Regions from separate parts of the Homo sapiens genome. Here regions 1, 2 and 3 are each linked to region 4. Evidence: fine-mapped QTL for protein levels in blood plasma. Region 4 holds a variant in brackets. A gene starts in each other region. All regions are shown on their forward strands.

Region 1 (6,032 bases), not on the chromosome of region 4:
TCAAGATCTGGGTTTCCTGGCTGCTCTCTCCCTGCTCCCATTTGGTAAAAAACAGCGGCTGTCCTGAAGGTGGTCCTAATTAGCATAGCAGTGAACACTTATTATCATGTGCCAGGCACTTTATATTTGCTAACACTTTGAGCCTTACAACCACCCCATGAAGGAAGCACTATTATTACTCCAATTTTACAGATGGGGAAACTGAGGCACTGAAATGTTGTGTCAGTTGCCCTTGTCACACAGCAAGTCAGTGGCAGAGCTGAGATTTGAACTTAGGCAGCCTGGCTCCAGAGTGCAGGCTCTTGCTCTGTGACCACTCTGAGCCTCAGTTTCCTCATTGCATGATGAGGGTAATTGGAATACATAAATCCACTTTCCTTTCTTGATGCCTGATTCTCTGGTAATTAATTATTCATTCAATTTCTCCCCATGCTGAACTCTCAGATCCATGAACAATGAGACAAAGGCTATCTTGGTCACTACTTGTATTCCCAATTCTTAGCATAATGATTGGCCTAGAAAAACTCAACTAGAATGTGTTGAGTAAATGGTCTTTAAAAGGTCTGAAGATCATCAACAATGGTTTGAGTATCTGATAAAAGTTTTAGACCCTTTACATAGAAAAATCAACATATACCAGTAGCTGGGGGTGAGTCTGCCCCTCCCACTCACCCAGGGTACATTTGGCAATGTTTGGTAACATTTCTGGTTGTCACAACTGGCAGGGGGAGGTGCTACTGGCATCCAGTGGGTAGGGGTCAGGGACGCTGCTAAACATCCTACAATGCACACGACAGCCCCAAGTGCCAATAGTGCTAAGTTTGAGCTATGTGACATACATACATAGATATGTATTGTATGTCATGTTTGGTACCATTGATGGCAAGTGGGGGGTAGTTAACGGATTTTCCTAAAAGCCCGTGTCTGCCACCCAGATGAAGATCCTCCAGATTGGAAGATCTGTTCCTCTAAACTCATATTACTCTATGACCTCACATTCCCGAGTCTAGAATCTAGTTCCTCCTGGGTCCCCTGTCCTAGCCTCTGATTCCCTAAATGCCTGGGCCTCCTCTCTTACCTTCAGTGGGTAGCAGGGGACCAGAGGAGAAGCATCCAGGTTTTATGTGCTGCCCCTGTCACCGCATCCACCTACCCACTTCTATACCTGGGTCATCACAGTTCCCTGTAAATGGTAATAAAGATGAAAAGCTTCAGAGCCAGGCAGTTCTGGGCTTGAACACTAGTTCTGTGGATTAACTCGCTCTGTGATCACAGGCAAATTCCTTAACTCTCTGAGCCTTAGTTTCCCCCTCTGAAAACAGGAGGGATACTCATTAAACTTACCTTACAGGTGGTGAGGATGAAACGAGAGGCTTATAGAGAACTTATTACGGTGCTTGACACAGTAAATCTCAAAAAATGCATTATTATTATTATGGTTCAGAGGTAAAGTGACTTGCCCAAGGTCACATAGCTGGAAAATGGCAGAGCCGGGATGGAAATCCAGGACTTCGTGACTGCAAAGCAGATGTTCATTGGTTAGTGAACTTTAGAACTTCAACTTTTCTGTAAAGGAAGTTAATTATCTCCATCTCACAGTCTCATTTATTAGATAAGCATATAAAATGCCTGGCACATAGTAGGCCCTTTAAATACAGCTTATTGGGCCGGGCGCCATGGCTCATGCCCGTAATCCTAGCACTTTGGGAGGCCAGGTGGGCAGATCACTTGAGTCAGAAGTTCGAAACCAGCCTGGTCAACGTAGTGAAACCCCATCTCTACTAAAAATACAAAAAATTTAGCCAGGCGTGGTGGCGCACGCCTATAATACCAGCTACTCGGGAGGCTGAGGCAGGAGAATTGCTTGAACCCGGGAGGCAGATGTTGCAGTGAGCCGAGATCACGCCACTGCACTCCAGCCTGGGTGACAGAGTGATACTACACCCCCCAAAAATAAAATAAAATAAATAAATACAACTTTTTGAGTTGTTAGCAGGTTTTTCCCAAATAGGGCTTTGAAGAAGGTGAATATAGACCCTGCCCGATGCCGGCTGGCTAGGAAGAAAGGAGTGAGGGAGGCTGCTGGTGTGGGAGGCTTGGGAGGGAGGCTTGGCATAAGTGTGATAATTGGGGCTGGAGATTTGGCTGCATGGAGCAGGGCTGGAGAACTGAAAGGGCTCCTATAGATTATTTTCCCCCATATCCTGCCCCAATTTGCAGTTGAAGAATCCTAAGCTGACAAAGGGGAAGGCATTTACTCCAGGTTACACTGCAGCTTAGAGCCCAATAACCTGGTTTGGTGATTCCAAGTTAGAATCATGGTCTTTTGGCAGGGTCTCGCTCTGTTGCCCAGGCTGGAGTGCAGTGACATAATCATGGCTCACTGTATCCTTGACCTTCTTTCTGGGCTCAAGCAATCCTCCCACCTCGGCCTCCCAAAGTGCTAAGATTACAGGAATGAGCCACCATACCTGGCCCTGAATCTTGGGTCTTGGCCTTAGTAATTAAAACCAATCACCACCATCCGTTGCGGACTTACAACCTACAGTGTTCTAAACATTTTATATGTTTGATCTCATTTAATCCTCACATCAATTTAGGGACAAAGAGCCCCCCACCCCCCGTTTTTTTTTTTACAGCTGAGGAAACACTTCAAAGTGGTAAGACATTTGCCCGAGGTCCTGAAGGAAGAGAGTAAAGCCATGTCTGCTGTTTTCTAGAGGCTGCTACTGTCCCCTTTACTGCCCTGAAGATTCAGCCTGCGGAAGACAGGGGGTTGCCCCAGTGGAATTCCCCAGCCTTGCCTAGCAGAGCCCATTCCTTCCGCCCCCAGATGAAGCAGGGAGAGGAAGCTGAGTCAAAGAAGGCTGTCAGGGAGGGAAAAAGAGGACAGAGCCTGGAGTGTGGGGAGGGGTTTGGGGAGGATATCTGACCTGGGAGGGGGTGTTGCAAAAGGCCAAGGATGGGCCAGGGGGATCATTAGTTTCAGAAAGAAGTCTCAGGGAGTCTTCCATCACTTTCCCTTGGCTGACCACTGGAGGCTTTCAGACCAAGGGATGGGGGATCCCTCCAGCTTCATCCCCCTCCCTCCCTTTCATACAGTTCCCACAAGCTCTGCAGTTTGCAAAACCCTACCCCTCCCCTGAGGGCCTGCGGTTTCCTGCGGGTCTGGGGTCTTGCCTGACTTGGCAGTGGAGACTGCGGGCAGTGGAGAGAGGAGGAGGTGGTGTAAGCCCTTTCTCATGCTGGTGCTGCCACACACACACACACACACACACACACACACACACACACACACACACCCTGACCCCTGAGTCAGCACTTGCCTGTCAAGGAGGGGTGGGGTCACAGGAGCGCCTCCTTAAAGCCCCCACAACAGCAGCTGCAGTCAGACACCTCTGCCCTCACCATGAGCCTCTGGCAGCCCCTGGTCCTGGTGCTCCTGGTGCTGGGCTGCTGCTTTGCTGCCCCCAGACAGCGCCAGTCCACCCTTGTGCTCTTCCCTGGAGACCTGAGAACCAATCTCACCGACAGGCAGCTGGCAGAGGTGGGCAAACACCTAGTCTAGAGTTGGGGAGGGCTGTCCGTGAGGGTGTTGAGTGTCCCAGAGAGGATGCAGGGCCTCAGAGGAGATGCTTTAGGGGTGTGTTGGTGGTGATGGGCGTATCTGAAGAACAGAGGTGTCCAGGGTTAGGCAGTGGGGGGTCTTGTGGAGGCTTTGAGCAGTGATGGCCAGAAATGGGCAATGGGGCTTTCCTAGGTGGGAAATGGGAAATGGTTTGGGGTGGGGGAGGCATTGGAGGGTTCTGGGGTAAGCATAGGCTGGGAGTGAACAGGGGCAAACCTTATGCAGCTGTGGGGTAGAAATGGGCTAGAGGCATCCAGGGGTGAGAAGGAGCTGAGGATGTCTAAGGAGGGGAGATCCCTGGGTGGTCAGAAAGCACTGGTGTCTGGAAAGCATTTAATGCTTTATTAAATGTTAGTCCCTGCTGGGCATGACGGCTCACACTTGTAATCCCAGCACTTTGGGAGGCTGAGGTGGTAGGATCGCTGAAGCTCAGGAGTTTGAGCCCAGCCTAGGCAACATAGTAAGATCCTGTCTCTACAAAAAAATTAAAGAAATAGCCAGGCACAGTGATGTGCACCTGTAGTTCCAGCTATGCAGAAGGCTGAGATGGGAGGATCGCTTGAGTCCAGGAGGTCCAGGCTGCAGTGGGCTGATACCGTCTCTCCGAAAAAGAAAAAGAAAAAAGACTCCCTCCATGAGTGTCTGGAGGGAGTCCTTTGGCCCCAGCTGGGCAGAGAAAGGGGTCAGAGATCTGGCATGTGTGTGTCCCTTCATCCACAGGAATACCTGTACCGCTATGGTTACACTCGGGTGGCAGAGATGCGTGGAGAGTCGAAATCTCTGGGGCCTGCGCTGCTGCTTCTCCAGAAGCAACTGTCCCTGCCCGAGACCGGTGAGCTGGATAGCGCCACGCTGAAGGCCATGCGAACCCCACGGTGCGGGGTCCCAGACCTGGGCAGATTCCAAACCTTTGAGGGCGACCTCAAGTGGCACCACCACAACATCACCTATTGGTGAGCCGGGGCCGTGGGGGCAGCGGGGTGGGGCGGGGAGGCCAGGTCTGGCTCTTGGGCCAGCGGTGAACATGTCCTGTCTTGGACGCGTCCCTGGGTTTCACTATTTAATGTGTGGCCCCTGGGGAGTGTCCCCACCTCTGAGCCTCTGTTTCTCCTTCAGGGAAATGGCTCTTGCAATCCAAGTCCTCCTGCCAGGGCCATTGTGAGGGTCTAAGTAGACAAAAAAAAAAAAAAAAAAAACAGTCTGGAAGCAATTTATAGATGAGAGCGTGGACGGCAGAGAGCATTGTGTATGTTGAAGTCTCTGCGATATGGGGTGTCCCTGCTGCCCCGCTCCAGCCTTTCACTTCTGACCTCCTTCCTCTGGCTCTTACGCTACAGGATCCAAAACTACTCGGAAGACTTGCCGCGGGCGGTGATTGACGACGCCTTTGCCCGCGCCTTCGCACTGTGGAGCGCGGTGACGCCGCTCACCTTCACTCGCGTGTACAGCCGGGACGCAGACATCGTCATCCAGTTTGGTGTCGCGGGTGAGAACGTGAGGAGGGAAAATCCAAGAGACCTGGGCGGGGTCAGGGAAGGGAGGACCACGGAGAGCGTGGAGGCAGCAGTGGCCCCGGCTTCCTCTTGCCTGCCCGCGCTGCCCTGGCTTATACGGCCCCTCCTGCCAGACAGTGCACAGGGCCAGGGCGCCAGGCTGGGAGAGCTTCGCGCAGGCGGGATTTCAGCCCGCACTTATTTCGGAGCCCTTGCCTTGGGCAGCGCACAATCTGCGCAGCAGTACTCGGCTAACCCTCTTCCTCTCGACCTGTTTCTTCAGAGCACGGAGACGGGTATCCCTTCGACGGGAAGGACGGGCTCCTGGCACACGCCTTTCCTCCTGGCCCCGGCATTCAGGGAGACGCCCATTTCGACGATGACGAGTTGTGGTCCCTGGGCAAGGGCGTCGGTGAGATTCTGAGTCCTCCTGGCCCCTGATTCCCTTCATTCTCTCCCACTCATCACCCGCCGCCCTAACTCCGGTCCCCCCTCCTCCTGCAGTGGTTCCAACTCGGTTTGGAAACGCAGATGGCGCGGCCTGCCACTTCCCCTTCATCTTCGAGGGCCGCTCCTACTCTGCCTGCACCACCGACGGTCGCTCCGACGGCTTGCCCTGGTGCAGTACCACGGCCAACTACGACACCGACGACCGGTTTGGCTTCTGCCCCAGCGAGAGTGAGTGAGGGGGCTCGCCGAGGGCTGGGGGCGCCCACCACCCTTGATGGTCCTGGGTTCTAATTCCAGCTCTGCCACTAGTGCTGTGTGGCCTGCAATTCACCCTCCCGCACTCTGGGCCCAATTTTCTCATCTGAGAAATGATGAGAGATGGGATGAACTGCAGACCATCCATGGGTCAAAGAACAGGACACACTTGGGGGTTATAATGTGCTGTCTCCGCCTTCTCCCCC
Region 2 (5,874 bases), not on the chromosome of region 4:
CGTGAGCCACCGCGCCTGGCCTCATCACTCTTAAATAATGAAAAACTAAATTTTTAGAGGAAAAAGAAAATCACAGGACCCTGTGAAGGAAGGTATGTGTTCCCTTTTTCTATAGATTCTCTTTGTCCTGTGTCCTTGGTAGGCAGAGACCATTAATCCAACTGCTGCCCCTACTAGTGATTTTCCAATCATAAACCAATCCGATTCTTTGCAGTAGGTACCGATCTAACCAAGATTCTGAAAGAAAAATCAATCTCATGATTATTGTAAAATTCAGACCCTCAATATTTACTACACAAATAATGAATGAGTAAAGAAACGAATGACTATTGTTCACTTCTGGTTTTACCTATAAATATCAGCAGTTTTTATAGCAATTTAGTTCATTGGCTCAAATGTTAAATCACTCCATGCTCACACTTATGTTCTCTATTGAGAGAAATTTCTGTTTTGTTTTTGGAAATGTAATTTGGAATTTCTTTATCCAAATTTCTGACAATACTTGTCTCTCTTTCTCTCCTTATATTCTGTTCATTTTCCTCAGAACAGATATAGAATAAAAGGCAATTTACCCAGATTGTCTGTGGAATTGGGATTATGAATTAATTTATAGCTATGCAATTTAATTACTGTATGGGTCAAACAGAACTTACAATTTTTCAAAGCAGTAGTACACAACAAAATGTAACTTATGCTAAACTATACTGAATATCATTTACTTTGCCTGCATAATTCATGAGGTACTTCAGGTTTTTGTAGTGCCTGAAGGACTCTTACAGAAATTATCGTTATATACACCAGATAAATTTGGTTCCCGAGCCCTCCGATGTATAGAATTCTGGATAAATGGGAGTTTGTGGTACAGTCCTAGCTCTACCACTTATTAGCTCCGTGAAACTGGATGATGTTGTTAGTCCTCCTGATGCCCAGTTAGCTCTCTGTAAAAGGGAGATAGTAATAGTACCAATCTCAAAATGTTATTGCGAAGATTCTGAGAAATAATACTCTGAAAGTGAATAACATATAGAATAACCTGTAGTAAATACTCAGTATAAATTGTTATAAATAAGTTGTCATCATCATCATCATTATAGCCTTCTTGTTTTTCTTTTAAGTAAATGGTATTAATTCTATTTTCCCATACTTGGGTGTTTAGCTTTCTAATCCCATTCTTCGGTGAATTTACATTTTGGGGCTAACACTGGGATTCTTTCCCTGTACACATTTTCCCATCCCTAGTACCTTTAGCTTTTTTTCCATTTGACTTCTCATCAGGCTGGTCCTTCACAGTCTGGATCTTTAGGTCATCAAAAGTCATTTCCAAATTCAAGCTAAGAATGAGAGAGTGAAGCAGTCACGAACTTCAACAAACTAAAAATATGTGAGCTTCTGCAGAAGTATTTAAATAGCTACTGTTATCTAATAGAAGAATGACTCAATCATTGGTAGGAGGAAGGAGAGGCTTTGCTTCATATTGGGAAGTTCGCTGACGCAAATTCTTGAGTTATGTGTATTGCAGGTGGAGAAAGTGGTGATTCTGAAGGTGTTTCAGGATATTTCGCTAAGTAATTTATGAAAGGGAAAACTATTTTTCATGAGCATCAGAGGAGAGATATTGTACCCACTCTTCAGAGACAGAAACTGAAATTCAAAGAGAGTAAGTCACACTACATTTGTAAAAAATGTGCCAGAATTATGGGCCAAAATATTTGATTCCAATGTTTGTTTGCTAATTTCATTAGCAGACTGTTTCTATATGGTGTCTTTTACGAATCAGATATATTCTCTTTTGATTTTCACTGTTTTATCTGGCAATGGATCTAAGAATTTTGGGGTGAATCACATATGGCTCCCATTTCCAGCGATGGTGTGTCCTGGGTGATTTTAGAATTTATCTGGGGCTACTAGTTCATGCAGTGCCAGTGTAACGTAGCAGCAGAGAGCACTTTGAATGCAGAAAGAGCTAGTTTCAGTACTTTCCTTTAGTCTACAATCTTGGGAAATCTTAATACTTTGAATCTATGTCTTTGTCTGGAAATTAGGGATAATGTCTACCTGATAACATTGTTATAGGAATTCAAATGACATGTCTGGAAATTAGGGATAATGTCTACCTGATAACATTGTTATAGGAATTCAAATGACATGCTGGGTAAAAATAATAAGCTTTTTTACACTAGGTTTGTGAAAAATGTCACGTTGCTATAGGAATTCAAATGACACGCTGGTTAAAAATGACAAGCTTTGTACTTGGAGCATAATAAGAAGCCAATAAATAATAATTATTAGTATAGTACTAATATTCAGCACAGTTGAATTACCCATCAAATAATGTATTTCAGTAAAATCCATGATTGACTCATGTCACAAAGACGCTTACATGAGAGACCCATAAGTATGTCTATATGTATTTACTGATAGAATACTTTTCTATTTTCCCTTGACAACCTCCTAACCAGATATATATCTATTAGAGATGTCTTCTGAAGGAAGTATTTATAAGCAAAATGATATGATATCTGGCATTTACTTTAAATTACTCCAGGAAAAAAAAGTGCAAAGAAAAGAATACACAAAGGAAGAATGGAAAAATAAATACATAAATAAAACATATAGGAAACTATTAGGAAAAATTACCAATATTGACAGCCTAATTAGGATTCCATTTCCCTCCTCCTCCCTGTTTCCTATATTCCTTTTATTATGTGCAGAGTATTTGAGAACAAATTGAAAAAGTTGGCCAGGTGCAGTGGCTCATGCCTGTAATCTCAGCACTTTGGGAAGCTGAGGGGGGGGGTGGATCACTGAGGTCAGGAGTTCGAGACCAGCCTGGCCAACCTGTTGAAACCCTGTCACCACTAAAAATACAAAAGTTAGCTGGGCCTGGTTGCAAGCCTATAATCCCAGCTATTTGGGAGGTGGAAAATGAAAATGCTTTTCATTTTCAGTGAGCTGAGATTGTGCCACTGTACTCCAGCCTGGGCAACAGAGCGAGACTCCCTTTAAAAAAAAAAAAAAAAAAGAATTAAAAAATACTGAAACGATATCACACTGAAAAGGGCACATTATCATTTCTACAGTGACTCAGTTATTTTGGATGCCATGAATATTATAGAACATAAAGTGTTTACCATTTCAACCATTTTTAGGTGTACTGTTCAGTGGCATTAAGTACATTTACATTGTTGTGCAGCCATCACCACCATCCATCTCCAGAACTTTTCATCTTCCCCAACTGAAACTCTATACCCACCAAGCAATAACTCCTGTGATGGTGAATTTCATGTGTTTTGTTTGTTTGTTTGTTTGTTTGTTTTTGAGATGGAGTTTCACCCTTGTTACCCAGGGTGGATTGCAATGGCATGATCTCGGCTCACTGCAACCTCCGCCTCCTGGGTTCAAGCAATTCTCCTGCCTCAGCCTCCTGAGTAGCTGGGATTACAGGTGCCCGCCACCCCTCCCGGCTAATTGTTTTGTATTTTCAGTAGAGACAGGGTTTCACCATGTTGGCCAGGCTGGTCTTGAACTCCTGTCCTCAAGTGATCCGCCTGCCTCAGCCTCCCACAGTGCTGGGATTACAAGCGTGAGCCACCGTGCTGGCCTTCTGTGTCTTCTTGACTGGGTCATGGGGTTCCCAGACAGGATGCTTTTAAATGAGATTAACATATTAATCAGAAGAGGAAAGTAGATTTCGCTGCATAATGTAGGTGGGCCTCATCCAAAAGTTGAAGGCCTAAAGAACAAAAAGCTTCTAACCTTCCCCCAAATAAGAAAGAATCCCCCAGCTGTCTATGGACTGGAACTCAGCCATCAACTCTCCCAGTTCTCCACTCGCTGGCCGAGTCTGGCAGCCCACACTCCAGATTTTAAATTACCAGGCTCTATAATCATACAAGCCAATTCCTTATAATAAACCTATTTCTATGTATGTACACAGCGTATTGATCCTCTTTCTCTGCACAGACCTAATACAAATCCCAATTCCTTTCTCCTTTCTTGGAAACCACCGTTCCATTTTTTTGTTTCTATAAATTGGTTTATTTTAGGCACCTCATACTGGTGGAATCATATAATATTTGTCCTTTTGTATCTAAATTATTTTATTTAGCATTATGTCTTCAACAATTATCAATGTGGTAGCATGTGTCAGAATTTTGTTCCTTTTAAAGTCTGTATAATATTCCATTGTATGTATAAACCACATTCTACATTTTATTTATCCATTGATGGACGTTTGGGTTTATCCTGTTTTTAAAGATCAGTGGGATAGTTTCTACAGTCCTTGTGTGGCAGATAACTGGACAGATTTGAAAAATTTTAGAGGGCTCTCATTATTCCTGCCTCCTGGTGTTCATGATCTTGTGTAATCCTTCCCCTTGAGTGTGAGTGAGACCTATGACTTGGAGTGTAGCAGAGGTGCTGGAATGTATGTGATCATCTACGTGTGCTTATGTAAGGTATAGTGACTATTATGCTAAAGTCACTCTCCCTCTCCTATTTCCATCTTTATCTCCCTGTCTAGATTTTTAAAAGCAAGCTTAAATGGATCCTGCAGCCATAGAGAAATAAATTCTGCCTGAGGGAGCTTGCAAGTGAATCTTCCCAGGCTCACCTGAGAATGCATGATGAGAGTGCAACCCAGCAGCCACCTTGACTGCAGCCTTGTGAGACATCAAGCAGAGGACCCAACTAAGTTGTGCCCACACTTCTGACTCACAGATACTTTGAAATAATAAAAGTACATTGTTTTACCTTGCTGCTCACATAATTTGTGGTGATGTGTTACACAGCATATCAACCTAAAACATTCTATGATAAACTGAATCCTTCTGTCTTGTTTAACTTTTTTAACTCTAATCTTTTTACTGATTTCAGTGCCTTTGAAGCTGTCACTCAATCCCTATGCTGTGATCTTGGCTTATCAGACAGAAACACTTCCCAAGGGATCTCCCAAGGGTTGCAAAGATGAAACTTCTTCTGCTATATTATTTATTTTTGAAATCAGGGCTGTGGCCCTACCCACTGACTTATAGTTTGAGGTTGATGCCTCAGAGTCCTGGCCTCTATTTTATTGAGGCACAGAGAGGAAAGAAATCCATAGTTGGCCACCTGACTTAGGCAAGGTCAAAAGGAGAATGATCAGTGGAACCAGAAGTAAGCAATTTGTTTGGCTACACTTGTTACACCAGTTGTATAACAATTCCCTGAAGCATAGGTGTAAAACTCTATGTACATGCACCCTCTACTGGTTCCACTCCAAGTCCTTAACTACCTGGACATAAGCTAATGATTCACAAGCTTAATGGAACTGCACAAGATTGTATAGGATTGTAATGAGACCATTTCCCTCTATCCCAGCTACCTGCCCTTCTGTACCTGTCCAAAGTGTACTTCGTTCAGTCTTCTTGTCTGAATTATCTTTCTTCTTTCATCATTCCCTATATGGAGGCTTGGTTAGGGACAGGATTCAGAGTTAAAGCTGCCCCAAGGCATAATCTCATTCATTAGGATAAAAACAAACTTTTATCTTTCCAGGGACTAATCTGGTGAGAAAAAAAAAAAGGGTAGTAATAATTCTAAGAAAGGAAAGTCACAAGGAGGTCATTAACAGAACCTATTTTGTTCAAACCTGTTTGGAAGCTGGAGGGCAAAAAGATGATGGCAATTACGTGTTAGAAAAGTGCAATGCGAGCGGGGAGTCATGTTAACCAGCAAACCTGTTTAGGCAGGTGAAGGCTGGCGTGGTTGGGAGAAAAGGTGGCCAGGCTAGCAAGGAAAAATATTCAAGAATTAGAATATCAGGAGACTAAAATGTGGTCTGGAGAGGGAATGGTATAAAAATATACAAGAGAAGCATAAAGGACAGTAATTATC
Region 3 (5,963 bases), not on the chromosome of region 4:
CTGGAGGCCCCACAACCCCTCCACACCTCACACCACTTCCCTGCCCAGCTTCTGAGCCTCCCTCTCCTGCCCAGCCTCTTTGCCCATCCTATTCTCTCACCCCCTGGTTCCCAGAGTTGCCTCTACATCTTGACATCACCTCCCCCTGGAAGCCTTCCAGGGATGCCCCTTCTCTACCTGTGGAGATGCCAGGTTCTCAGTGGACCACTCTCTCTGCCTGACCTCCTGGCTCTCTCCCCTTCTCAGCATCCTTCTGCCTGGCGCCTGGCCTCCCCAGTTCCCGGAGGGCAGAGGGTGCCTCTGCTCCCCACCGGCACCCGTGGGCAGACCCAGCAGGCGGGTTCTGGCGGGGAGGAAGGAAGTACTTACTGAGCAGCGTCCTCTGTGTGAGCAGTACCCCCATGCTGGGTGCCCGTGCTCCGGCCCGCGCCCGCTGGGGGTGACACCTCTCGGCTGGGAGCCCTGCAGGCTGGCAGCCACTTTATGCCCGCTGGGGCGATTGGCCAACACCTCATGAGGTGGGTGGGGATGGGGAGGGGGGAGGGCAGGCCTTCTGGGAACATGACCCCAAAAACCAAAATTTCCACGGGCGGCCAATGGGCGCAGGGCGCGGTGTATGCCCGCTCCTCCTCCTGTTTTCTTCGAATTCGTTCTTCGAGGTCAGCCCTACGCCCAAGGATGATGTAAAACCGCAGCCTCAGCCTTCCTAGGGTGAGTGGGGAGGAAAAGGGTCCATGCCATCTTCAGGGAACTGGGCCAGGGATGGGCAGGAGGGACTTCGAGCTGGGCCTCTGGAGGCCCCAGGCCAGTCTTGGCCCAGGAGCCATTGGCCTCACAGGACACGGTGGTTGGGGGCTGAGGGGAGCGAGACATCTTCCTTCTTGAGTGCCCTTCCTGCCCTCTCGCCGGGGCTGTTGGGACATCTGTGAGCGGAAACCACCGGGCTCTGGGCACAGAGCCAGACGCAGGCTGGCAGCCCCGAGATTGTGGTTCAGGCCCCAGGACCAGCATCCCCCAGCCCGGCTCCCGACGGTCTCCTTTCCCCCATCGTGCACCCTCTGCCAGGCCCACTCCCCAAAGCCAGGCCTTGTCTTTGTAGGCAGGCTCCACTGGGGAGAACTGGACACTTGGAGCAAGAGAAACAGGAGGCCAGGGTTCAAGCCTGCTGAGGTGCTGTGTGACCTGAGGCAAGTCACTTAACCTCTCTGGGCCTCAGAGACCCACAACTATAAAATGAGGAGGAGAAAAGCCTTTCCCAGCCCACCTCACAGGGTTGCTGCCAGCATGGACATAAAAGGAAAAGACCTCTGAAGGAAAAAGCAAAGATGAAGGTCTGATTCCAAGTATTAGCTGTCGAGGGGGCGGGATGGGGGAAGGAGGAGATGGGGAAGCTGTGAGCTCAGAGGGGAAGCCGGGGAGGGGGAGTTGCCGCCTTGACAGTTGGGGACCAGGTTTCACTTTCTCTGAAAGATAGCGATCTTAGGTTGGTCCTCTGCGAAAGGGCCCTGGGAACAGCGCCTCCCTAGTCAAACTGCTACTTTACTGTGGGGTAAACTGAGGCCTGGGTGAAGGCAGACAGGGAGGCCAAGAGGCTGGCCCAGGCCTATAGACCCTGCCTGGTCAGCACATCTCCCAGGCCCAGAGGAGGGTCCTTGGCCTGCACCCTAAGAAGCCCGGGTGGGAGGAGGCCCTCAGGAGTCTGGGGAGTCAGGGTGGGACTCCTGGAGGCTGCCAGGGAGGCCTGAGCTGCTCCAGCTGGAGGGAGCATGGGGTCTGGGGCGCCTGAGCAAGGAGAGCTGGGGCAGCCAGAAAGGAGGAGGTTGGATGCACCCCTGTCCATGCCTGCTCCCGATGCCCACTGTGGCCACCAAGGCAGTTGCCACCCATTCTCCCCATCACTCATTTATTCATTCGACAAACCTTTATTTGGCTCCATGCTGCACCAGCCACTCCCAGGTCTGAGGATCACGTAGTAGGCAAAAATAGGCGACCCCACGCCCAGGAGGCTGCTCTTCAGCCCCTACCCACTCCCCGGCACCCAGGCTGGGACTCACCACACCAGGCCTCATACCTCCCCCTCACCACCCCCAGGGGCCAGTTCTGGATTCTCATCCTGAGAATGTCGCTTCCGCTGAAGTCCTCATCTCTGTGCCCACCCCCACAATGCTGTTTCCTGGGGCCATGCCAAGAGGGGATCCTTCTCCATTTCACATCCCTGATCTCGTCTTTTTTTCTCTTTTTTTAAATGCAGGATCTTGCTCTGTCACCCAGGCTGGAGTGCAGTGGCGCCATTGTAGGTAGCTCACTGTGGCCTCCAGCTCCTAAGCTGAAGCAAGGCTCCCCGCCTTAGTCTCCTGAGTAGCTGAGACCACAGGCATGCATCACTATGCCCAGCTAATTTTTTTATTTTTTGTAGAGACGGGGTGTCACTATGTTGCCCAGGCTGATAACAAACTCCTGGGTTCAAATGATCCTCCTGCCTTGGCCTCCCAAAGTGCTGGGATTGCAAGCGTGAGCCACAGCACCCAGCCACCGATCTCATCCTGCAACAGCCAGGGGAGAGAAGCCGCTGGGCAGTGACACCTCAGCTCACTTCAGTGAGGAGCTCGAAGCTCTGGGAAGTTTAGGGGCTGGCTCAAGGAAGGAGCGCCAGATCTGAGCAGAGGGGTCTAGGCCATTTTCAGCTGTGGCTGACCGACCACCACGCTTGGTGAGAAACAGCCACATGCCTTTATCTTATTCTATCTATCCTGTGGTCCAGGGAGGCCGTGCTGTCTCCTCATGGCAGAGAGAGGAGGTTGCTTTGTCTGAGGTCACCTATGAATAGTTAAGAGGAGAGGGGCATTTGGCCAGGCATGGTGGCTCACGCCTGTAATCCCAGCACTTTGGGAGGCCGAGGCAGGAGGGTCATTTGAGCCCAGGACTTCGAGACTGTGTCTTTACAGAAAATGTAAAAATAAATTATCCAGACATCGTAGTGCATACCTGAAGTCCCAGCTACTAGGGAGGTTGAGGCAGGAGGATCGCTCGAGCCCCGAAGGTTGAGGCTGCAGTGAGCCATTATCATGCCACAGGACTCCAGCCTGGGTGACAGAGCAAGGCCCTGTTTAAAAAAAACAAAAAACAAAAAACCCACCAAGAAAAGAAGGCATTCAAACGAGGCCCAAAGACCATACTCTTTGCACATAGTTAATGAGGGTGTCAGGCACAGGGCCCAGGGCTCAGAGTCACTGAAGGTAAGGAGAGCAGGTAGATTACATTGCTAGGACTCCCATAACAAAGTACCACAGACTGGGGGGCTTACGTAACAGAGATTTATTTTCTCACAGTTCTAGAGGCTGAAGTCTGAAATCAAGGGCTGGTTCCCAAGGCCTCTCTCCTTGACTTGTAGATGACTGTCTCTCCCCGTATCTCCACATCATGTTCCTTCTGCTTGTCCGTGGCCTAATCGATTTTTTTTTTTTTTTGAGACAGAGTCTAGCTCCGTCACCCAGGCTGGAGTGCAGTGGCACGATCTCAGCTCACTACAACCTCTGCCACCTGGGTTCAAGCGCTTCTCCTGCCTTAGCCTCCTGAGTAGCTGGGATTACAGGCGTGTGCCACCACGCCAGGCTAATTTTTGTATTTTTAGTAGAGACAGGGTTTCGCCATGTTGTCCAGGCTGATCTCGAACTCCTAACCTCAGGTGATCCACCTGCCTCAGCCTCCCAAAGTGCTGGGATTACAGGAGCGAGCCACCGCGCTTGGCCTTATCTCTTCTTATGAGGACACCATTCACATTGGATTAGGGCCCACTCACATTTTACCTTAATTATTCCTTTTTTTTTTCTTTTTCGAGACAAAGTCTTGCTGTGTTGCCCAGGCTTAAGTGTACAGTGGTGCTTTCATAGCTCACTGCAGCCTTGAACTCCCGGCCTTAAGCGAGCCTCCTGCCTCAGCCTCCAGAGTAGCTGGGATTACAGGTATGTGCTACCACACCTGGCCAATTTTACCTTAATTACTTCTTTTTTTTTTTCTTTTCTTTTTTTTTTTTTTTTGAGATGGAATCTCACTCTGTCACCCACGCTGGAGTGCAGTGGCGCCAGCTTGGCTCACTGCAACCTCTGCCTCCCAGGTTCAAGCAATTCTCTGCCTCAGCCTCCCGAGTAGCTGGGACTACAAGTGCCCACCACCATGCCTGGCTAATTTTTGTATTTTTTTAGTAGAGACGGGGTTTCACCATGTAGGCCAGGCTGGTCTCGAACTCCTGGCCTCAAGTGATCTGCCTGCCATGGCCTCCCAAAGTGCTGGGATTACAGGCGTGAGCTACCGCACCCGGCCCTTAATTACTTCTTTAAAGGCTCAACTTCCAAATACAGTCACGTTCTGACACACGATGGTTAGGACTTCAACACATGAGTTCAGGGAAGACACCATTCAGTCCATGCAGCCTGCAAGAGGAAGGCATAGCTGGAGGGCACAGGGGCTGGGGCCACTGTCGGAGCATCCAGAGTGAAGTGATACACAGGAGGACAGGGAGTGGCTCGGAGGTGAGGAGGCCTGGCCGCTGACCATCCCAGCCAAGCGTGAGGAAAGATGCGTCAGCGTTTCTGGTGAGGTCAGCAATCAGTGACGTCCCTCTCACCAGCAGGAAAAGCTTGCAACATGGCCCAGCCAGTATAAATAGGCTCCCCGACCACAGGACCCGGGCTGTCCCCTCTTCCCGGGCCACGTCAGCCAGGCCCGCGTGATTTGGAGAGGAAGAGAGGACCAGCTTGGTTCCTCAGAACTGCTGCTTCCTCGCTTTCCGGCTTACCCTCTGCTGTGGGGCCCTACGCCTTTAAATGCAAGGATAGGACCTGAGATGGCCTGGCAGGGCCAGGTCGAAACTGGAGGCTGGGGAGAGGTGCTCTGGTGGGGGGAGAGAAGGTGGCCCCCAATCTGCTGGGTGGGAGGTGGAGACCAACCCAAGTTCCATCTCAATCTGCCTGTGAGCCCAGTGTCCCTGGACCAGTCATGTCCCCCTTCTGAGCCTCAGTTTCCTCTTTTTAAACTGCAATGACAACTGAACAACAATGAAAAAGACAAGCAATCCAATTTAAAAATGGGCAAAGGATTTTAATAGACATTTCTCCAAAAAAAAGAAGATATACAAATGGCCAAGAAGCACGTGAAAAGATGCTAAACACCAGGGAAATGCAAATCAAAACCACCATGAGAAGCCATTCCACATTCACTAGGGTGGCTATAATCAAAGGTAGACAATTACAAGTGCTAACGAGGAGATGGAGAGATGAGAACCCTGGGGCATTGCTGGTGGGAATCTACAATGAATGGTGCCACCAAATTGGAAAACAGTTTGGCAGTTCCGCAAATGGTTAAACACAGAGGCCAGAGGCAGTGGCTCACGCCTGTAATCCCAGCACTTTGGGAGGCTGAGGCCGGCAGATCACTTGAGGCCAGGAGTTTGAGACCAGCCTGGCCAACGTAGTGAAACTCCAACTCTACTAAAAGTACAAAAAATTACGCAGGCATGGTAGCACTCGCCGGTAGTCCCAGCTACTCGGGAGACTGAGGCAGGAGAATTGCTTGAACCTGGGAGGCGGAGGTTGCAGTGAGCCAAGATTGTGCCACTACCCTCCAGTCTGGGTGACAGAGTGAGACACTGTCTCAAAAAAAAAAAAAATAAATAGAGATATCATATAACCAACAATTCCACTCCTAGATATACACCCAAGAGAATTGAAAACATAGGCCAGGTGCAGTGGTCAGACCTGTAATCCCAGCACTTTGGGAGGCCAAGATGGGAGGATCACTTGAGCCCAGGAGTTCAAGACCAGCCTGGCCAAAAAAGTGAGACCCCATCTCTACAAAACATTTAAAAATTAGCTGAGCATGGTGGCTTGCACCTGTGTGGTCCCAGCTACTCAGGAAGCTGAGACCGAAAGATCACTTGAGCCTGCGAGGTCAAGGCTGCAGTGAGC
Region 4 (6,077 bases):
TAGCTCCTCCTGCCCCTTCACACTGCTAGAAAGTGCTTTTTTGTGTTTTTCTCAAACTTGCCCACCCAGGACTTCTGCTATGATTTCCAACCTGCCTCCTGGGACGTTAGGCACGTCTTTGTCTTCCAGGCCGGGATGTCTGTCCTCTACCTCCCAGCTGCGAGAGAGCTCTTAATTGGTCACCTGGGTAGGGGTAAGGAGGAGAGGGAGGGGACAAGCTGCTCCCTGGGCACTCACTGTCTGTTGGATGGTCAGTCCCCATGGGTGTGTTATATGCTCAGTGGGGACAAGGTTGGGGGGGACACCATGATACTGACGATATGCAGAGAGAAACTGGATAGGCATGGAAGAAGCTGCATTTACCACACAAAAGAAGATCCCTTGGCCCCCTATCCCTATCTCCAACCCAGATTTCCCTGGACTCTTCACGGGGGTTACTTCAGGGGGATTCCCTGGTAGCCTCACAGGCTCAGGGGCAGGACTGCTGTTGATAGATATAGAAAGTGCCAGAATAGAGGAAGATGTAAAAAGTGAAGGAATAACTGAAGAAGGAGACCCTTGGAAATACTTCCTCAAATACCAGAACACTAGGCATGGGCCCAGAGCCTCCCAGAGAGTGGGAAAATGAGCTGGAGAGAACTCTGTAATGCCTGCAGGGGGCTGTTGGATGCCCACTGGCCAGAAATGCCTCTGCAGGCAGTAGGCATTGGGTGTGAAGCAGGGCCAGCCAGCCTCAAAGGCCCCTTCCCATGAACTCAAAATTACCTGCTCTGGCACCCCCAGGTCCTCAGATTCTAGAGCTCAGAATCCTAGATCTAAAACTCTGATCCTGAGGTTCTAGAGAGGGGTAAGAAAACTTCAAGTAGCTGGGACTACGGGTGTGTGCCAGCATGCCTGGCTAATTTTTAAAAGAATTTTGTAGAGATGGGGTCTCACTTTGTTGCCTAGGCTGGGCTTAAACACCTGGTTTCTGCCTTGGCCTCCTGAGTGGCTAGGATTATAGGCATGAGCCACCGTAGCCAGCTTGAGCTAACTTTTTTTAAAGGTCAGATAGTGAATATTTTAGACTTCACAGGCCATATGGTCTTTATCACAACTACTCAACTCTTTGTAAACAGATGGGCACCGTTGTGTTCCAACAAAGCTGAATTTACAAAAGCAGACTGGATCTGGCCTTTGGACTATAGTTTGTCTACCCCTGTTCTCAAGTTTGACAATTGTGTGATCCTGATATTTATTCATTGATCTCATGCATTCTCAAGGTTCCAGAGCTTGGAGGTTCCAGGTCCAGATCCAAGTCAGATGGCAATGAAAGCCCTGGTCAGGTGGCTGTGTCAGGTCCCCTAGGGGCGCTCCGGCCACAACCCTGATGGCCCCACCCCTCCCTTCCCTGCAGGGCGATGGCAGCAGACCTGGGCCCCTGGAATGACACCATCAATGGCACCTGGGATGGGGATGAGCTGGGCTACAGGTGCCGCTTCAACGAGGACTTCAAGTACGTGCTGCTGCCTGTGTCCTACGGCGTGGTGTGCGTGCCTGGGCTGTGTCTGAACGCCGTGGCGCTCTACATCTTCTTGTGCCGCCTCAAGACCTGGAATGCGTCCACCACATATATGTTCCACCTGGCTGTGTCTGATGCACTGTATGCGGCCTCCCTGCCGCTGCTGGTCTATTACTACGCCCGCGGCGACCACTGGCCCTTCAGCACGGTGCTCTGCAAGCTGGTGCGCTTCCTCTTCTACACCAACCTTTACTGCAGCATCCTCTTCCTCACCTGCATCAGCGTGCACCGGTGTCTGGGCGTCTTACGACCTCTGCGCTCCCTGCGCTGGGGCCGGGCCCGCTACGCTCGCCGGGTGGCCGGGGCCGTGTGGGTGTTGGTGCTGGCCTGCCAGGCCCCCGTGCTCTACTTTGTCACCACCAGCGCGCGCGGGGGCCGCGTAACCTGCCACGACACCTCGGCACCCGAGCTCTTCAGCCGCTTCGTGGCCTACAGCTCAGTCATGCTGGGCCTGCTCTTCGCGGTGCCCTTTGCCGTCATCCTTGTCTGTTACGTGCTCATGGCTCGGCGACTGCTAAAGCCAGCCTACGGGACCTCGGGCGGCCTGCCTAGGGCCAAGCGCAAGTCCGTGCGCACCATCGCCGTGGTGCTGGCTGTCTTCGCCCTCTGCTTCCTGCCATTCCACGTCACCCGCACCCTCTACTACTCCTTCCGCTCGCTGGACCTCAGCTGCCACACCCTCAACGCCATCAACATGGCCTACAAGGTTACCCGGCCGCTGGCCAGTGCTAACAGTTGCCTTGACCCCGTGCTCTACTTCCTGGCTGGGCAGAGGCTCGTACGCTTTGCCCGAGATGCCAAGCCACCCACTGGCCCCAGCCCTGCCACCCCGGCTCGCCGCAGGCTGGGCCTGCGCAGATCCGACAGAACTGACATGCAGAGGATAGAAGATGTGTTGGGCAGCAGTGAGGAC[T/C]CTAGGCGGACAGAGTCCACGCCGGCTGGTAGCGAGAACACTAAGGACATTCGGCTGTAGGAGCAGAACACTTCAGCCTGTGCAGGTTTATATTGGGAAGCTGTAGAGGACCAGGACTTGTGCAGACGCCACAGTCTCCCCAGATATGGACCATCAGTGACTCATGCTGGATGACCCCATGCTCCGTCATTTGACAGGGGCTCAGGATATTCACTCTGTGGTCCAGAGTCAACTGTTCCCATAACCCCTAGTCATCGTTTGTGTGTATAAGTTGGGGGAATTAAGTTTCAAGAAAGGCAAGAGCTCAAGGTCAATGACACCCCTGGCCTGACTCCCATGCAAGTAGCTGGCTGTACTGCCAAGGTACCTAGGTTGGAGTCCAGCCTAATCAAGTCAAATGGAGAAACAGGCCCAGAGAGGAAGGTGGCTTACCAAGATCACATACCAGAGTCTGGAGCTGAGCTACCTGGGGTGGGGGCCAAGTCACAGGTTGGCCAGAAAACCCTGGTAAGTAATGAGGGCTGAGTTTGCACAGTGGTCTGGAATGGACTGGGTGCCACGGTGGACTTAGCTCTGAGGAGTACCCCCAGCCCAAGAGATGAACATCTGGGGACTAATATCATAGACCCATCTGGAGGCTCCCATGGGCTAGGAGCCAGTGTGAGGCTGTAACTTATACTAAAGGTTGTGTTGCCTGCTGAGCTGTGCCCTATTGTGTGGTCGGGGGATGAGGATATGGCAGGGAAGCTTTCACCAGCCACACAAGGGTCCTTTCTCCAATCCGTTCCCTTCTGCCACCTGCCTTCTCACTAGCTGTCTCAGGAGTAGTCTCATATCAGGGATCCTCTCTCCAGGCCCCAGGTCATCCCCCACTGTAAAGCCAGTTGGCTTCTGTGCCTGACTCTGTGCTGAGCACAGAGAAAAGTCAGGTGCAGTCCCAGTCCTTGAGATTTCCCAGTTTAGGTGATGGCCAGTCATGTGCTGGTAAATGTTAAGCCATTTAACTGGAGCTCCGATTTAACTGGGAACCCCTTCTTTGTAGAACTGCCCATTTCCATGGTGCAAAAACTCTTATGGCCAAATTCAAACTATAAACATGATGTCAACTTCCTTGTAAAATTCCTGAAAATTTAACAATTGGTTCTTGCAAGCAGGTACAAGTCACTCTAGCACACCACTGGATAATGCCGAGTGGCTGGGGCTGTGAGCCAGGGGGTCAGGGAAGGGTTCCTGGAGTGGGAGACTCCTGAGCTGTAGCTTCTGAGAAAAGCAGCTCACCGGAAGAACATCCACACACAGGATGCATCCCAGGCAAAGACATGGGGCAAGAGGGCAGGGTGTGCATGAGCCATAAGCAGGCTGGACAGCTGACTCCAGGCTCAAGGCAGGGTTGGGGCTGGGTCACAAGGAGGCCAAGTTAGGGCTCCCTCCTTGCCCTGACCCTGAGGCTTCCTTTGCACTGGGGGTAAATATGAAAGAGATTCACTCCTCCTCCTGTCCATCGTCTGCCTTCTGGGAAAATCCCAGAATGGCAGGGTGGTGCTCAGGCTGGGTCAGGACTTAGTATGGGGGAGATGGGTCTCACCTATGATAGGTTCTGAGTCTAGCCAGGACCACTCTGGGCTGACGTGTGGCGCTCAGCTGGACAGGGCCCCGCCCTAGCCTTTGGAAAGGGACAGGGCAAAGCTGACAGGCCTCACTCTTGATCTCAAGGACAGGGACTCCCTCCTCTCCCTCTGGGAGAGCCCTCGCCCTGTGGCCCACTCTGCCTGCCCCCTCTGACCTCTCCACCCTTCCCACTCTGCCTTGTGAAAGGCAGGACATCCCCAAAGCTTGCTGTATTTGGAGCCTGACTCCACAGCGCCCTCATGTGACAGAGACCCATCACAGACCATGACCCAAATGATTACTCTGTACTGTGCCAGGTGGGTGACCTGCCCAGAATAGTGTGAGCTATTCACCTCTCACCTTCTAGGTTCTATACTTCTGTTAATGTAGCCGATGTCCTTCTGAGTTTTTTTTTTCTTTTTGAGACGAAGTCTTGTTCTGTCACCCAGGCTGGAAGTGCAGTGCTGCGGTCTTGGCTCACTGCAACTCTCTGCCTCCCGGGTTCAAGCAATTCTCCTGCCTCAGTTTCCCAAGTAGCTGGGATTACAGGTATGCGCCACCACACCTGGCTAATTTTTGTATTTTTAATAGAGACAGGGTTTCGCCATGTTGGCCAGGCTGGTCTCAAACTCCTGACCTCAAGTGATCCACCTGCCTCAGCCTCCCAAAGTGCTGGGATTACAGGTATGAGCCACCGCACCCGGCCCCTCTTGAGCTTTCTTAATGATTGCCTGTTACAAACCACCCTTGAGCCTTTCCCACAGGCCCGAGCCACTCCACAAGGACACAGGAGGGGCTCGTTCACCATCTAATCCTGTGGCAGGCACAGGTGGGGGTGGATACTGGAGACCCTGGGTGAACCAGGGGCACCTCTGGAACCCAGTTGGACTGCCTGGCCCCTTGGTATGCACGTCCCACCTTGCTGCTCAGTGCCCAGGCCACTTGCCTTGTGGGTGAAGTTCCTGCCCTGATGCCTCATGCTATTTTCAGCCCAAGTAAGACCATAATTTTCCACTCCTGGCCCCAGACCATTGTCCAGCAGTGACGTGAGGGGATCTGCCTGCCCTCAAAATATCTCCTATTACCCTCCAATATTCCCTGCCCCCTTCACACCTCCCTAACCTGACATCACTTCCTGGGCTGTTGACTCATGAAGGCCACTGTGAAAGGGCACGTGAGTTGCCCATCCACTGAGCAGACCCCAGGGATTATCCAGCCCAGCTGCAGACTCAAGGCCAGAGATGGGCAGGGCTGAGCCCAAGGTCATTCAGCAGGTCAGCGTGGCGCCTGGATGTAAGCAAGTGCCTTGGTGACGATCCTGCTGTCACTCACACTGCCCAGCTCTTCCTGCCCAGGGTGACTGGGATGGAGCCATAGACCTGAGGCCAGGGACAGGACAGGGATGGGAGGAAAGGGAGGGTAGAGAGTTGAGTGTCAGGGAGTAAATGTCTGCTGATGTGCCTGCAGCAGCTGTTCTCAATGAACTGCATGACATCAGGGCAGGGTCCCTGGCACACAGGGGTCTCTGCCCTGGGTGGCAGGTGTCCCAGGGTCCAGGAGGGATGGAGGAACCCCAGGGTACATTCCCACTTTCACCCCCTGAGGTTAGAAGAGGCCCTAAGCAACATGTTATCCACACATGGTTGCTCCAGGTCAAGTCACCAAAGCTACCTCTCTGTCACCCTTGTCATGGCAGATTTGGGCTGCTCTGTTTAGAATCAGGCACATGAGGGAGGGAAGTCGTGTATTGACCCATGTCCCACGCACCCTCTCATCTATGTTATATGGTGGATGCTTCACAGAAGCCCTGGGAAGTAGATGCTATGATCCTATTTAGCAGATGAGGAAACAGGAGAAGGGCGTGAGAAGTGAGGACTTGTTCCAGGTTATCCAGGCTGTCAGGGTGAGTCAGAGTGAGTCCAGGTTCACCTGATGGCCAGAATCATGCCCTTTATAGTGCCCCACGACACTCACAGCCCTGCAGGGCAGAAGGGT

Alleles and levels. Positions count from the first base shown, and alleles are read on the strand shown. Strength reflects both the effect of a copy and how common the allele is.
For the plasma level of the protein whose gene starts at base 3,391 in region 1, C is the high allele of the variant in region 4 and T is the other (moderate association).
As copies of T replace C in region 4, the plasma level of the protein whose gene starts at base 1,373 in region 2 goes down (weak association).
For the plasma level of the protein whose gene starts at base 455 in region 3, allele C in region 4 goes with a higher level than allele T (weak association).

What was found. A credible set is the group of variants that fine-mapping cannot tell apart. PIP is the posterior inclusion probability: the model's chance that the variant is causal. Protein levels are from antibody-based Olink assays in UK Biobank. Linkage for the fine-mapping came from a reference panel and not from the study's own genotypes, which makes the PIPs less certain.
Region 1: MMP9 starts here. The variant in region 4 is the best candidate, but not a certain one, in a credible set for the plasma level of the MMP9 protein (UK Biobank, PIP 0.64).
Region 2: OLR1 starts here. The variant in region 4 is the best candidate, but not a certain one, in a credible set for the plasma level of the OLR1 protein (UK Biobank, PIP 0.72).
Region 3: it holds the start of OSM, and the variant in region 4 is the best candidate, but not a certain one, in a credible set for the plasma level of the OSM protein (UK Biobank, PIP 0.52).

Annotation. Positions count from the first base shown.
Region 1 is chr20:46,005,518-46,011,549 of GRCh38, forward strand. MMP9 (matrix metallopeptidase 9) reads left to right here and starts at 3,391. Exons shown (of 13, transcript NM_004994.3): 1 at 3,391-3,547; 2 at 4,349-4,581; 3 at 4,966-5,114; 4 at 5,405-5,533; 5 at 5,626-5,799. The coding sequence starts at 3,410.
Region 2 is chr12:10,170,760-10,176,633 of GRCh38, forward strand. OLR1 (oxidized low density lipoprotein receptor 1) reads right to left here and starts at 1,373. Exons shown (of 6, transcript NM_002543.4): 1 at 1,243-1,373. The coding sequence starts at 1,318. It also overlaps a transcript of TMEM52B not described here.
Region 3 is chr22:30,266,397-30,272,359 of GRCh38, forward strand. OSM (oncostatin M) reads right to left here and starts at 455. Exons shown (of 3, transcript NM_020530.6): 1 at 370-455. The coding sequence starts at 403.
Region 4 is chr11:73,232,760-73,238,836 of GRCh38, forward strand. It overlaps P2RY2 (purinergic receptor P2Y2), which reads left to right. Exons shown (of 3, transcript NM_002564.4): 3 at 1,397-6,077. The coding sequence starts at 1,401. The coding sequence ends at 2,534. Among named protein-coding and RNA genes, the nearest start is that of P2RY2, 18 kb to the left of the region's middle. RefSeq lists enhancers at 4,450-4,499, 5,085-5,379. The variant T/C (reference allele first, on the strand shown) is at 2,475.